2 separate regions of the Homo sapiens genome follow, and region 2 is linked to region 1. Evidence: fine-mapped expression QTL. A gene starts in region 1. The other region holds a variant in brackets. All regions are shown on one strand. Distances are from middle to middle.

Region 1 (2,907 bases):
GTACACATGTATATATGTGATTGGTGCTTTTACTCACACAGCCCCCCAACCACGGGAAGAAACAGACAATCACAGCTTGATCATTAGGGCTAAGGCCAAATAGCAAGATAAGTCTGCCTCTAGTCTATTTCCTCCATATCTAAATGTTGGAGGTCAAGGCTATGGACAGATCTGAAGATGTGTTCTCTCCTCTTAGGGCCCCATTATTGATGGGCAGCAGTCCTCTACCCGTGGATATTTTCTTTTGCTTTCCCCTATGCTCTCTAGGATCACCATCTCGTCCACCCTTCGACCGGAGGAGAGATGTTTGTAGCAAGAGGCTGTTCCCTCACCTCTGGCTGAAAAGGGACTTTCAGACCCTCCACTTCCTGACATAAGGGAGGTTAGACCTCAGAGCTGCACTTTAGTGTGGCAGCTATTGATCATGTGTGGCTATTGAATAACAGGAATACAGCTGGTCTGAACTGAAATGTGCTGAAAAGGTAAAATACAGAGTGAGCTTCAAAGATTTAGTACCCCAAAATATATACTTCCTTACCAATTGTATATTGACCATAGAGGAAAATGGTTACATACTGGGTTAAATTATTACAATCAACTTCACCTGTTTCTTAGTACATTTTAAAACGTGGCTACTAGAAAATTTAAGATTCACACATGGCTTACATTTTAATTCTTAGAGGCTTGAATCCTTTTTGAAATTTCAGGCTGTCTGTTCAAAGGACCAAAAGCCAGGAAGGCCATAAAATATAAAAATTCAAAATGATTGTCTTTATTTTCTTCTTTCCATTGGTGAATAACATATATTTATTATTTATAAATAAACATAACCGCAGTCACAAGATGAAATGTAAATATCCTCTAGGTGGGGCCGGACAGCGCAGGCAGGAAGCCCCGCTCCAAAAGATCGCGGCCAGCACCTGTCCTTGCTGTCTCATTCGGCCCATTGTCTGATTACAGCTCCTGTCACTCAGGGCCTGAGGGGGCGGGGCGTGATGCCCTATCCAATCAGAGGAGTAGGGGCGGGGACTGTCCAATCAGGCACATGTCTGGAGAGGAGAGGACGGCTTCCGGGATCTAGCGGGGCCTTTGTCCCGACAGAGCTCCACTTCCTGTCCCCGCGGCTCTGTGTCCCCTGCTAGCCGTAGGTCGTGTGACCCGCAGGCACCGGGAGATCCAGAAGTGAAACGCCAGGCTCTCTGGAGGCCAGGAGATGGTGAGTGTAGGGGCCAGGCCTCCTGAGAGACAGGGAGGGGCGGACTGGAACCCGCGGTACCGGCTCGGGAGGAACCGGGCTGCCCGGGTGGGTTCCGGGCTCCGCGGACCCGAGGCCCCTCCAGCTGCACCATGGCGGCCGGGCCCCGCGCGCCCCGGCGCATCCCTGCAGAGCGGCTTTGGCCCAAGCCCAGAGCCATGTCCCCCCGGCAGCTCTTCGCCCGCAGACCCTCGTCTCCCCGAGTCAGGAAGGGAGAATCCCGACTCCGTGGGTGGTTTGTGCATAAGAGGATGATCTGTAGCCCGTGGGGGCCCCAGTCCCTCCTTTCTCTCGAGGGAGTCCTTGCAAAAATGTGAAAGAGTTTTATTTGAGCAAAGAGCGATTCATGAATGGCAGAGGACCCAACCATGTTTTTTGGGTTTGGAGGTCCCACCAGCCGGCCTTGAAGGAAAGGCTTTTATCAGGTGCATGAGGAAGCAAACCACATTCATTCATTAGTTCGGTACAGTTACGTCATCTCCTGATTTCAGCTATCTAGGCTGAAATTTTCTGGTCCTGTAATCAGAAGTTAATTAGAGGTTTGTGGTTGACGAAGCCTGAATTTTGTTTCTGCAAGATAGTCATTTGCAAGAAACGCATCTGAGTTAGATTTTTTTTTTTAACCTAAGAACCCAGGGCACTAGAGCCACCTCAGTCGGATTGCCTGCTATTTAATTATTATTATTTTTGAGATGGAGTCTCGCTCTGTCCCCCAGGCTGGAGTGCAGTGGCGCGATCTCGGCTCACTGCAACCTCTGCCTCCCGGGTTCAATCAATTCTCCTGCCTCAGCCTCCCGAGTAGCTGAGATTACAGTCCTGCACCACCACGCCCGGCTAATTTTTGTATTTTTAGTAGAGACGGGGTTTCACCATGTTGGCCAGGCTGGTCTTGAACTCCTGACCTCATGTGATCCGCCTGCCTTGGCCTCCCAAAGTGCTGGGATTACAGTCGTGAGCCACTGCGCCCAGCCTGGACGGCACTTTTTAAGAGATTTGTTTTCTGTTTGTAATCATTCCACGTGACAGGAAAGCAGAGAATCATCCCCTGACGCTATTGTAAAAAGTCTTTGTGCCTCTCCTCCTTTTTATTTTCCCTAGGCACAGACACCTTACCAGAATGTCTTTGGTTTGAGGTTCCACTTTGGAAACTTGACAGGGTGATTTGCTCTCAGCCACCCTCTGGACTTTTTCCTCAGTTTCAGTATTGTCCAGGGATAACACAGGATGCCCACCATGGCCATGTCTGCTGGAGCATCTAGTGAATTTCAGGCCCTGGGTTATTTCTCAGAGGACAGCCTGAGGTATGAAGTGTGGCCTCTCCAGGGAGCAGCTGGATGCCCTGGGCTGAGAGAAATCTCCTGGTCTACTCTTCCTCTAAAGAGGTAACCACTTAGGACATTAAGATTGTCTTCACCCAACCCAACTTTCAATCCCTGGAGACACATGGCTGATCAGCCAATCACATGCCCCTGTCAGAGGGAAAAGACCGAAATCATTTCTGCCCTTTGGACTCTCAGATTTGTGAAGGGAGACAGAATGTTTCAAAGAGCAAGAAAAACTCCACCCCGTGAGATGGTGCAAAACCTGTAAAGCAAAATTCACCTGGGACACTCAGCGGGGCACAGTGCAGTGTATCATCGGGGGTGGCCGGT
Region 2 (2,907 bases), 35 kb before region 1:
GCTACTTGTCTTCTAAGCCACTTGCCTTCTGATTGCTGGACTGACTCTCTCGCCCTCTCTTGGTGCAGCCCTCGGGAGGCTCAGTCACACTCTCCGAGAGCACAGCCATCATCTCCCATGGCATCACAGGCCTGGTCACATGAGATGCTGCCCTCTACCTGGCAGAATGGGCCATCGAGAACCCGGCAGCCTTCTCTCATAGGTGACCTCGGGGCGCACGGCAGGACACCGAGGCAGGCTCACCCTGGTGCAGTTACAGACATGGTCCCCTTTCCTCCCGCCAGGACTGTCCTAGAGCTTGGCAGTGGCGCCAGCCTCACAGGCCTGGCCATCTGCAAGATGTGCCGCCTCCAGGCATACATCTTCAGCGACTGTCACAGCCAGGTCCTCGAGAAGCTCCGAGGGAATGTCCTTCTCAATGGCCTCTCATTAGAGGCAGACATCTCTGCCAACTTAGACAGCCCCAGGGTGACAGTGGCCCAGCTGGACTGGGACGTCGCGACGGTCCATCAGCTCTCTGCCATCCAGCCAGATGTTGTCATTGCAGCAGGCAATGCCCAGCCCCGGGCACTCTGTGCAGGCGGTGTCCTTGCAGCTCTACCCAGCTCTGGGCTCTGGGAAAAGGGAACAATGGACGCTGTCGGGCATGGACATGATGGGGCTTCCAGAAGAGTTACTCTGGGCCTCCAGGGTGACATCAAAGGACAGGGGTGCCTCTTAAGGTGACCTTCCAGCCACAGCCCTCTTGTTGGAGACAGGCATACTCCCATTACAGTCATCACCACATGGCTCTGTCCCAGAGCCATGCCTCTGTCTTTCAGAGACCACAGGAGGAAAACAACCACTTCTGGGATGAGGACAGGGCCCTTGAGAGAAGGTGGTGTTTGGCTGGGCCACCGAAAACCCCTCGCCCCTGCCAGCACACTCGGTCTCCTCTCTGGTTGAACAGAGCTCTGCCTGTGGTCCTGGGTCCCAGCCCTGAAACCCACAGGTCCAGCGGTGGCCAGGGACACAGGCCCACCCCTGCAAGCCAGCAGACAAATCGGCAGACACCTGAAACACGAAGTTCATGGCAGGGTCAGGCTTTGTGTCATTCACAGCCCTCTAGATAGGCCGAGAACCAGAGCTCATTTTTTAAGGAACACCAGTGAGTCTGGAGATTTTTTTCTTTTGCTTCGGTCTTTTGCAGCTTTCTCTACTAAGGGTTCTCCTTTTTCACCCAAGCAATTGCCTTTCCATCTAATGGCCCAAATGGTCAAATGGCATCTACTAGTCTCATATGACTGCTGCCTCTCTGGCCTCGCCCTGCTGCTGAGGTCAGCATGACCTGGAACTGTCCGCTGGTCCCTTTCAGTAACCTGAAGCTTTCACCGTAGACGTGCTGTATTGCCCAGAATCCATCGTGTCGCTGGTCGCGGTCCTGCGGAGGCTGGCTGCCTACCGGGAGCACCAGCGGGCTCCTCAAGTCTACGTGGCCCTTATCGTCCGCAACCCAGAGACGTGCCAGCTGTTCACCACCGAGCTATGTGAGCCCACACGCCCACCCGGGCCTGCATGGTCCCCGAGCTGTCCCTGCGGGACTCCAGTGGAAGTGAAAGAACTGGGGGCC[G/A]AGGAAAAGCTAGGATGCCCCACACTCCCACACCATGCGGGGAACTAGGGCAGAGGCCGGTGAGCAGGGTGGGCCTGGGGCGTGGGAGCTTGCGGCAGGAGGAGGGCAGCTCAGCACAGGGAGGGAGGATCTGAGCCCAGCAGCCCTACTGTGTGCTTCAGAGCAGGGTTCCCTAAGCCCTTGGGCGTCGGTTTCCTCATCTATAAAATGGAGGTGGTGGGAGGGGCAGTCGGGGTCAGGGCTGGACACAGCTGTGGCCTGCAGGACGCTGGAGCACAGGCTGTACAGGCGGATCCACCACGCCACTGTCCTGAGCACCCAGTTGATGGAAGACGAGCAGGGTGACTATAGAGAAGGGGAATTGTCCCCGTAGTGGGCCAGCCACTGTCCTCAGACCTGACATTTGTCAGCCCCCAGCACCTGTGAGAGTGTGCTATCATTGTCCCATCTCACCGACAAAGACACTAGGACACACAGAGGCCAAGCAACCCCTGAGCTCCCACAGACTGCAGCTCGGCCACCTGGCTCTCGTGCCTCCACACTACACCCAAGCCCCCCATTGCCACCAGCCTTTGCCCCAGATCACCCTGAGCACAGCCCCTCCTGGCAGCCATGTGCACAGATGCACGCGCAGCAGCCTCTGCCTGCACACAGAGACGTGGGTCCAATGCCTGTCCACGTGGGGCAGCGCGTTAACTACAGAGCCAACAAACAAGCCAGCACACGAAGGCATACTGGGTTCCACGACAAAGTCCTGCACAACCTCGCACAGGAGGCTGGCCGGGCGCGGGGCTCAGGCCTGTCAACCCAGCACTTTAGGAGGCTAAGGCAGGGGGACTTCTTGACACCACGATTTCAAGACCAACCTGGGCAACATAGTGGGACCCCATCTCCACAAAACATTCAGAAACTAGCCGGGCATGGTTGCGCACACCTGTAGTCCCAGCTACTCGGGAGGCTGAGGTGGGAGGATAGCTTGAGCCCAGGAGGTGGAGGCTGCAGTGAGCCCTGATCTCACCACTGCACTCTAGCCTGGGCAACAGAGCAAGACCCTGTCTCAAAAAGGCAAAAAAAAAAAAAAAAAAAGGAAGTCTTTCTTCAGATACTTATGTGAAAAAATAACTGCAATATCTTTGAAGTGAAAAAAACAGTGCCAAGCAGAACACATAGTATAAGCCCCCACCCACCTTTTTTTTTTTTTTTTTTTTTTTTTTTTTTGGAGACAGTCTGGCTTTGTATTGCCCAGGCTGGAGTGCAGTGGTGCCACGGCCCACTGCAACCTCCCACCTCCCAGGTTC

Evidence for each region. PIP is the estimated chance that this variant, and not a neighbour inherited with it, causes the effect.
Region 2: its variant is fine-mapped to the expression of ZNF195 in fibroblasts (GTEx, PIP 0.97).

The regions. Positions count from the first base shown.
Region 1 is chr11:3,377,347-3,380,253 of GRCh38, reverse strand. It overlaps ZNF195 (zinc finger protein 195), which reads left to right and starts at 1,108. Exons shown (of 6, transcript NM_001130520.3): 1 at 1,108-1,216. The coding sequence starts at 1,214. RefSeq lists enhancers at 861-1,155, 844-1,407 and a silencer at 1,333-1,402.
Region 2 is chr11:3,412,474-3,415,380 of GRCh38, reverse strand. It overlaps the pseudogene FAM86GP. Among named protein-coding and RNA genes, the nearest start is that of ZNF195, 35 kb to the right of the region's middle. The variant G/A (reference allele first, on the strand shown) is at 1,610.